3 linked regions of the Homo sapiens genome follow. The protein of the gene in region 2 interacts with the protein of the main gene of each other region in a biochemical or structural test. Each region holds a gene or a part of one and is shown on either strand. Other genes may lie near its edges.

Region 1 (3,657 bases), on a different chromosome or scaffold from region 2:
CTAGAAGAAAACATTGGAGAAATATTCCAGGACATTGGTCTGGGCAAAGAGATTTTTTGTGGAAGACCTCAAAAGCATAGGCAACCAAACCAAAAATAGAAAAATGGGATTATGTCAAGCTAAAAAGCTTCAGGACAGCCATGGAAACAATCAACAAAGTGAAGAGACAACCCACAGAATAGGAGAAAATATTTGCAAAGTATCAATCTGACGAGGGATTAATAACCAGAATATATAAGGAGCTCAAACAACTCTGTAACAAAAAACCAAATAATCCAGTTTAAAAATGGGCAAAAGATCTGAATAGATATTTCTCAAAAGAAGACATACAAATGGTCAACAGAGATATGAAAAAATGCTCAATGTCACTAATCATCAGAGAAAAGCAAATCAAAATTAAATGAGATATCATTTCATCCCAGTTAAAATGGCTTTTTACAAAAAAAATAGAGAACATCTTTTTTTTTTTTTTTTTTTTGAGATAGAGTTTCACTCCTGTCACCCAGGCTGAAGTGCAATGGTGCAATCTTGACTCACTGCAACCTCCATCTCCAGGTTCAAGCGATTCTCCTGCCTCAGCCTCCTGAGTAGCTGGGATTACAGGCGCCCACCACCATGCCCGGCTGATTTTTGTATTTTTAGTAGAGATGGGGTCTCACCATGTTGGCCAGGCTGGTCTCAAACTCCCAACCTCAGGTGATCCACCAGCCTCGGCCTCCCAAAGTGCTGGGATTACAGGCATGAGCCACTGCGCCTGGCCAAGAATATCTTTTCTGTAAAAAGATGCTGGAGAAGACGTGGAGAAAGGGGAACCCTGATAAACTGTTAGTGGGAATATAAATTAGTACAGCTACTATGGAAAACTGTATGAAGGTTCCTCAAAAAACTAAAAATAGAACTATCATATGATCTAGAAGTTCCACTGCTGGGTATATATCTAAAAGAAAGTAAACCAATATATTGAAGAGATATCTGCCTTCCCATGTTTACTGCAGAGATATTCATAATGGCCAAAATATGAAATCAACCTAAGTGCCCAGAAGTGGATAAATAGATTAAGAAAATGTGATATATATAATATTATTCAGCCATAAAAAGAATGAAATCTTGTCATTTGCAACAACATAGATGGCACCATAGGTCATTTTGTTAAGTGAATAAGCCAAACACAGAAAAACAACTATCGCATGTTCTCACTTACATGTGGGAGCTAAAAAAGTGGATCACATGAAGATAGAGAGTATATTAGTGGTACCAGAGGCCAGGAAGTGTGGGGGGAGGACAAAGAGAGGTTGATGAATGGGTATAAACATACAGTTTGACAGGAAAAATAAGACCTAGGATTCAATAGATCAGTAGGGTGGCTACAGTTTACAATAATCTATTGTATATTTCAAAATAGAAGAGAATAATTTGAATGTTTCTAGCATAAAGAAATATTTGAGGTAAAGGATACCTAATGACATGATTTGATTTTTATAAAATATATGAATGTATTAAATTATCACATGTACCCTGAAAATATGTACATCTGTTATATATCAAAAGAATTTTTTAATTTCATGAATGTATTTAATGCCACTGAATTGTACGCTTAAAATAGTTAAAATGGGAAGTTTCATGTTACACACACATATATACATATTATTTAAAATAGTAAAGACGCTTGTGTTTTAAGCCTCTAAAATAGTGATGAACACAAGGGAGGAAACAGAAGGGGAAGACAGAGGAGAGGGGTATGGAAGGAGAATAGGGAAGTACAGAGTTGCTAAAGGGAATGGAATATGGGTGAAGAAGAAAAACCTTTAAAAGGGATTTTTAGAAAGATTTGCTGTGTAGTATAGATATAAGCCACTTCCTCTGAAATCTTGAGCAAATTCCATATTATTCACCAATTACTTTGGTGCTTGAGTTGCAGTTTTAGTTTTAAGTGCTGACGTGGATGAGAATGGCCTTGAGGCATCCGGATATATTTGGGTCACACTAATCTAAGCAGGAATTTGTGTCACTGTGGCTTTTCTCCATTTGCCCCTCTCCTGACCCCCTTGTCTTCTCATGCCCCTGAGGACACTCTGGGCCCTGAGATGTCCTCCACCCCCATCCTGCCCCTCACCTCCACGCAGCAGTGTGCATCCAGCGGGATAATGCCCCTTTTCTCTTTGCACTCTTCACTCCCAAAGTAGCAGAGGCAGCTGGGCTGCAGCTGGAACCAGCGTTCGGCCCAGTTCCTTCTCAGGTGCCCTCGCTTCCACAGGTAGCCCTGCCAGCCGGAGTTACGTCAGAGGCTTCCCAGGCCCCCCTTCGCCCTGCACCTTGTGTGCTTCCCCTAGTTCCCAGCTTGCCTGACCTGCTTCAGGACATCTTGGATGAGCTCCTGGTAGACCTCGTGGATGGCCATGCTGAGGGTGTCCCGGCCCACGCCCCGCAGGCAGCGGCCCGAATTGAAGAGCTCCAGGAACTGCCAGACGCTGAGCCCCCCGGTGGTCTGGGCCACCTGGGCCTCCTGGGCCAGAAGCTCCTCCAGCTCACCCAAGCTCACCTCCAAGCTCATGCTGCTGAGTACCTTTTTCAGCAGGTATTCCACCTGGAGCAGGAGAAGGAAGGCCTGGTAGCTGCAGCAGGTGGTGTTGCCAGCACCAACACCAGGGAGTGCTCTATCTGGCTCCCAGAGCCTGGGCAGAGGGAAACAGGGGACAGAGCGTTGAGGGGGCCAGAGGACCGAATGTTATGGAGCCAGGGAAAAGACCTGGGAGAGGATCCTGGAGCCCCAACCCCAACTCAGGTTTTCTCTCCCCGTCCACAACCTCCAGTCCCACTCCTTCCTGTCTTAAGGGCAAGGTGAAGGGGACCTGAGATCTGGGGTCCAGAAAGAGGCAATAAATCACAGAAAGTGTCAAGGGAGTGCAAAGGCCCTCTCATCCAATCACTCATTTTGCAGATGACCAAAAAAAAGCCCAAAGGGGGAAGTGACTGGCTCTAAGTCACACAGCAAACTGGGGGCAGCCAGAACCCGATTCTGATCTCCTGAATCCCATTCAGGTCCTTATTCCAAGCCCCAATCCCCAACCCTGGGGATCTTTCCCTTGTGGGAGAGGAAGGGGATTTGGGGTAGGGGTAGGCGTTGGGGAGTGGGGAGTAGAGGTAAGCTGGGCAGGGACAGGAAACCTGTTACAGAGGAACCGGAAGTGGTGGCTGGGGTACATCCTGCTGCAGTTGTTAACTCTGTATGTTGATCGCAGAAGCAAACAACCTCCTGGCCTCCGAGGCCACCTTGCCCTGACTGGCAGGGGTCTAACAAGGGCAGCCAGCCAAGTGTATGTGCAGATGGACACATGTCCCTCACCTGCCCCAGCAGCTTTTTGGGACACTCTGTTTAGGACTTTCTGGGGGATCCTGGGTCTTGTTTGGGTGTTTAGTAGAGGGCACTGGTTCAGGGCTCGGGTGGTTCCCTTCATCACCCTTCCCACAAACAGAAGCCAGGACAAATGTGAGTGGAGCTTGACATGCTAGGGCTTCTTGTAAGTACAGAAGCCCCCTCTCCTGTAAACCCCACTCTAAAGACCTAAAGTCACCCTGGCATCTCCACAGCCACCAAGAGGACTAAAGGGTCACAAGGCCAAATGGGCAGGGGAGGGAAGTGAGGATAAGAGGGAGGGT
Region 2 (2,657 bases):
TGTTGTGCCCATGTCGGAACTTCTTAAATCCTCACAACAACCCCGCCTCTCTTTTAAAGAAACTCCCCTTTGCTTATCACCTTCGGGGTCCAGCATTGTTTCATTTCACTGCTGAAATGAACACTTTCCCATGACCTCCAGTAGTGGAGGTTGAGGGTTTCTCGCCCAAATTCCCAAATTCCCGCCAGGCTCTCAGCCCACTTTGGAACTCACCCTCCCCCCCAGTACACACGCTTTCGCTGGGGTTGCCGCAGTTCTGTTCCAGCATGGCATATGGTCCATGCCTGGCCAGTCAGAGCACAGCACTGCACCACTCTGACAAATATGATTGGTTAAAAGGGGGCCCAGGACCTAAGCTGGTCCAATCACAGTAAATCTTAGTTAGAACTTTGCCTGGGATAGACATTTGCTCTTTTTGGCTGAACTTGAACTTGGAAGGATGAGGCCCTGAACTTGAACTTGGAAGGATGAAACCCTGAACTTGAACTTGGGAGGATGAAGCCCTAAGTCGCCTGCCTGAGAATGAACCAGCCAGCAGAAGGCAGAGCCCAGAGCTAAACAAGCCTCGATGACATCATTTGAATACCTTGATCAAGCTGCACCTGAAATCACGATATCTCCAAACTTGAATCAATAAATTTATTTTCTGCTTAAGCAGGTTGAGTTGGGTTTTCTATTTGCAATAGCAAAAGTCCTGACTGGCAAGGTTTAAAAGTTTGAAGACTCTCACAGGTAAGTGCAGCTCAGGATCCTGTGAGTGCAGCAGAAAGTCTTAAGAAATGGCAGGGGCTGGTTGAACCCAGATTTTCCATTGGCTGAGCAGATATCCCCAGAGGCGTAGAAAATTAAATTTGTTTTATGTTGTTCCAAAAGAGGAGAACTGAGGCCAGAGGAGCACACTTCTGAGACACTCATTTTTGCTGGGTAGAGGAACTCTCTGGCAAGCAGGACCATCGATATTAGAGCAGCTGGCCTCAGGAGGGAGTAAGAGCCCCATCCCTGAAGGTACACAAGTTGTGGCAGCAACCATCTGGCCTGCAGTTTCCAGAGGGGAGTCAGGCGTGGGGTGGGACTGGAGTGAACGGGTAGATGCTTCCACATGCGGCAGTTGGCACTGACGGCAGGAACACGGGGGTGGCTTAATGGGTCCTGGGGCTCCCCTCTGGCCCTCAGGAAGGCAGGAGCATGAGGGGCTTGGGATGCAGCACCTGCAAATTTGCACGTTCCTGGCCTCAGGAGGCCTCCAGTACAGAAAAGACCATCAACGAAGCTCTGCAGCCATCTGCTAAGAAACGCCACAGGGAGGGGACAGCATGGCCAGCCGGGGTGCCATCAGGCTTTGGGTGGGGATCCTGGAGGATCAGACCCATCTAGGTGGGAGCGCTGGGGTGCAACCTGGAAGGAAGATAAGCAGGGAAAGAGAATTTGGGGACATGCAGAATCCACAGCTCTCGCCTTCCTGGCTCACAGCTCATTCCCACCTCCAGGTCTTTGCTCAAGGTTTGACTCCCACCAGGACTGCCAATGCTGCTCTCCCCACCTCACCAGTCCTCTCTGTCCTTCTGGTCCCACACCTCCAGGAGGCCTTGTGGGCTGCCTCCAACTCACTGACCCCACCATCTGCCCCCTGGGGATCATAGCTCAGGCTCTCCCACCTCCACCCACATATGTGGGTGCAGGATCTCCCTGGCTCGACTGGGCTCTCCTAGGGCCAGGGACCAAGGCATCTTTTCCATCACCTCCTGCAGGAATGGGCAGAGTGGGGCTCCGTGACACCCACTCCCTGGCCCGGGGGTGGGGGGTTACCAGGCATTCATTCATACCTTGGGCCTTGCCTCTGGAAGATGAGCTCCAGAGAGTGAGACTGGCCCAGGCAGATGACAAGTAGGCTGCGGAAACTGAGGCAACCTCCATACCCACCTTCTTTCTGTCCTGGCCTAAATGCCACTCACAGTGAACCAAAGGCCACTGCTCAGCCAGGGCCTGCTGTGTATGGGAGTTGGGCACTAGAGTGGGGGACTCTTACCCCTAGAGGAGGCTGCAGGCGCGCTTCTGCTGCCGCGTGGGCTGAGGGCACAGCACGGCCCGGATGGCCTCGTCGAACACGGTTTTCAGGCCTCTCTGGGTGAGAGCTGAGCACTCCAGGTATTTCACCGAGTCTGGTTGGGGAGATGGACAGGAGAGCCAAGGCCTAAGTGGCGGGGGGGGTTCTGGGCCAACATGTCTCCTATGCCATACAACCCCTTCCACGCCATACACCCCTCCCACGCCATACACCCCTCCCACGCCATACACCCTCCCGTGCCATACACCCCTCCCACGCCATACACCCCTCCCACGCCATACACCCTCCCTCCCACGCCATACACCCCTCCCACGCCATACACTCCTCCCACGCCATACACCCCTCCCACGCCATACACCCTCCCATGCCATACACCCCTCCCACGCCTCCCACGCCATACACCCCTCCCACGCCATACACCCCTCCCACGCCATATACCCCTCCCACGCCATACACCCTCCCACGCCATACACCCCTCCCACGCCATACACCCTCCCTCCCACGCCATACACCCCTCCCACGCCATACACTCCTCCCACGCCATACACCCCTCCCACGCCATACACCCTCCCATGCCATACACCCCTCCCAC
Region 3 (3,657 bases), on a different chromosome or scaffold from region 2:
TTATACGATTATCTGAATAGTGTTTCAAAAGCACTTGAAATATCTTAAAGATCAAAAGGATCTTAAATGCGTCAAAAATAAGTAAACGTTTAAGTTTTTTTAGCAGTAGGAGAATTCTCATCTTTTTGGAGGGAGGATGGTCAAGAGCTTAGAGAACTATTACAGGTAAAGTACCCAAAAGTGTACTCAGTTTGAAACTTCTTCTTTAACCTTCGATGTTGTTGGCAAGCACTACAGTGTCCATCATCCTTAAAGGAGAGATACATATATTTTGAGACAAGATCTTGCTCAGTTGCCCAGGCCGAAGTGTAGTGGCATGATCATGGCTCACTGCAGCCTTGACCTCCCTGGCTCAGGTGATCTTCCCCGCTCAGCCTCCCAAGGAGCTGGGACTACAGGCACACACCACCATGCCCGGCTAATTTTTGTATTTTTTGTAGAGACAGTTTCATTATGTTGTCCAGGCTGGTAGAACTCATATTTTTAATCTTTTTTCCATGATTAATGTAATGATATTTGGAAATGAGGCCTTTGGGAAGTAATTAGGTTTAGATGAGGTCATGAAGATGAGACCCCCCCATGATGGGATTAGTGTTCCTAAAAGTAGAGGAAAAGAGACCAGAGTACTTGCTCCATCTTGTCCCATCCAATCCCAACCCATGCCATGTGAGGACACAGTGAGAAGGCAGCCATCTGCAAGGTAGGAAGAGGGCCCTCATCAATAACCAAATCAGCCAGCACCTTGATTTTGGAGCCTCCAAAACTGTCAGAAATAAGTCTGTTGTTTAAGACACCTAGTCTATGGAATTTTATTATAGCAGCTTGAGCAGACTAACACACAGCATTAAGGTTACGTTTAAAAAATGTCCATATCCACCTGTCCCAGCCTCCCAAAGTGCTGGGATTACAGGTATGAGCCACCACATCTGGCCCTTTCTTGCTTTTTAAAAACAGCAATGCATACCTTTCTGTAATGAAGTCTGACTTGACTCATCTTGCATACTGTCTTTCTGAGCATTCACTAGATCTGCAACCAGAACCTCAAGTGATTTATAGTTGCTCCCAGATATCTGAATTTTTTCCTCCATTATTTTCTTAATGTCCTTGAAACTGAACCCCATTCGTATAGCTTCTTGTACCATAGGATTTTGGAAGATGGTATCATCTGAAATAAAAATTGGTGAGGAAAAAGAACATAGAATTTAAACAATTATTTTCATTATCACAACTCAATAGCAAAATATAGTTAAAATGAAAAAATTAAGGAGCAAGCGAAAGAATAAAAACAAACCAGCAAAGCAAAGCTGCTTTGGGAAGATTTTTTGAAGTATTCAGGCACTGAAAAATCACTTTCAGAATCTTACAATTAATTGTAAATGCAATGAGTATGTATTTTGTAGTGTTTGAAACGATGCAAGGTAAAATAGGCAAGAAAAAGGTTAAGTGCTTCAAAAATCTGAACTGTTTTGAATCTAGCTGTACTCATTAACAATTAACCTAAGTTACTTAAAGAGTGGATGTTGTTACTGAGTCACTAGCAATTATTTGGGGAAAATGATGGGAAATCAGGGAAGTCCCAGTCTATAACCTTGAATGTGTCAATTTCCTAGCTCTCAAACTTCGTTTCTGTAGCAGAGCGGGTAGGACTGAATAAAGCAAGAAAGTCAATGGAAACTTGTTTTTATGATACTTAAAGTAGGAACACAGCATGTGTAGGGAAGTGCTAGGAGAGGACACTTATACCCTCTGACTCATCAATTCCACTCTTGGGTATTAAAAATGAGTGTATATCTCTGCCAAAGATATGCACAAGAGTATTCATAGTAGTGTTATTTATAATAGCCCCAAACTGGAAACAACTCAAATGTCCATCATCAGGTGAACAGATACATAAATTGTGGTATATTCATACGCTACACAGCAAGAAAAAAAAAAAAAACTATTGCCACAGACAATATGGATGGATCTCATAGATATAATGAGCAAAACATAATCATAATTCATCATTATGACACAAAAGAGTACCTACTGCATGAGTCCATTTATAAGAACTTCAAAACTAATCTATGGTAATAAACAAAATTAATCTATGGTAATAGAAGCCAGAATATAACTTGGGGGTGGGTACTGATGGGGAAGGAGCATGAAAGAACTTTCTAGGGTTGTGGGAATGTTCTATATCTTAATCTGGGGGATAGTCACACAGATAAATATATATATTTTAACATATACATTTTAATATATATTTAACACATATTTAATATATATTTTAACATATATATGTTAAAATTCATCAAGTAGAAAACTTACGATTAGGGTACTTTAAGCACTTTATGTGTGTATGTGTGCGTGTGTATATATATACAAAATCATATATATATACAAAATCATATATATACAAAATCATATATATATACAAAATCATATATATATACAAAATCATATATATATACACAATCATATATATATAAAATCATATATATATAAAATCATATATATATATATATATATATTTTTTTTTTTTTTTTTTTTTTTTTTGAGACGTAGTCTCGCTCTGTCACCCAGGCCGGAGTGTAATGGCGCGTCTCGGCTCACTGCAACCTCCACCTCCCAGGTTCAAGCAATTCTCTTGCCTCAGCCTCTCGAGTAGCTGGGATTACAGGCATGCACCACCACGCCTGGCTAATTTTTTTGTATATTTAGTAGAGATGGGGTTTCACTATATTGGCCAGGCTGCTCTCGAACTCCTGACCTCGTGATCCACCTGCCTCAACTTCCCAAAGTGCTGGGATTACAGGCGTGAGCCACTGCGCCCGGCTACTGTATGTATATTATAGCTCAATAAATGTTTTTTGAAAGAGAGGAGGCTGGGTGCAGTGGCTCACACCTGTAATCCCAGCACTTTGGGGAGGCCAAGGGGGATTCCTTGAGGCCTGGAGTTTGAAACCACCCTGGTCAACAAAGTGTGACCCTATCTATATTAAAAAATAAAAATAAAAGATAAGGCTGGGCATGGTGGCCCACGTCTGTAGTCCCAGCATTTCGGGAGGCTAAGACGGGCAGATCGCTTGAGCCTAGGAGTTCAAAACCCCGTCTCTGCAAAAAATACCAAAAAATAAAAAAAAAAATTACCCGGGCATAGTGGTGGGCGCCTGTAGTCCCGGCTACTCAGGAGGCTGAGGCAGGAGAATGGCGTGACCCCCGGAGGTGGAGGTTGCGGTGAGCCGAGATCGCGCCACTGCACTCCAGCCTCGGTGACGGAGCGAGACTCCGTCTCAGAAAAACAAAAAAACAAAACAAACAAAAACAAACAAACAAAAAGAAAAACTCTGTTGGCAGGTTATAATACAGACAAAAGACCAGTTAGGAGACTACTACAATTGTCCAGTTGAAAAACAAGGAAGGGCCTGAACTAGAGCAGAATAAGTGGGAAAGTCTGAAGCAACATTAAAAAGGTGGAATCCATCAAATTTGATGATTAATTAAATGTAAAAGGATTACAGAGAGCAAAGAGCTTAGGAACAACATAAATTACTGGGCAACCTTGTGAACTGTGGTACTATTAACCAATACAGGAGAAAAAAGTGCAGGATTAGATTCAGTCTGAGTGGTTTTTAGAGATGCATTCTAGGTGGAAATGTCCAGAGGGCAACTAGA

What was found.
Region 1: the proteins of RAC2 (region 2) and DEF6 form a complex in vitro, tested with the Homo sapiens proteins (one study listed by BioGRID).
Region 3: the proteins of RAC2 (region 2) and XIAP form a complex in vitro, tested with the Homo sapiens proteins (one study listed by IntAct).

The regions. Positions count from the first base shown.
Region 1 is NC_000006.12:35,311,229-35,314,885, reverse strand, and holds part of DEF6 (differentially expressed in FDCP 6 homolog), read right to left. Parts: intron 2,673-3,657; coding exon of another isoform or gene 2,585-2,672; coding exon 2,348-2,584; intron 2,261-2,347; coding exon 2,114-2,260; intron 1-2,113.
Region 2 is NC_000022.11:37,224,645-37,227,301, forward strand, and holds the end of RAC2 (ras-related C3 botulinum toxin substrate 2), read right to left. Parts: intron 2,160-2,657; coding exon 2,029-2,159; 3' UTR 2,027-2,028; intron 1,396-2,026; 3' UTR 626-1,395; downstream 1-625. UniProt on the Homo sapiens protein: Plasma membrane-associated small GTPase which cycles between an active GTP-bound and inactive GDP-bound state.
Region 3 is NC_000023.11:123,898,001-123,901,657, reverse strand, and holds part of XIAP (E3 ubiquitin-protein ligase XIAP), read right to left. Parts: intron 1,166-3,657; coding exon 965-1,165; intron 1-964.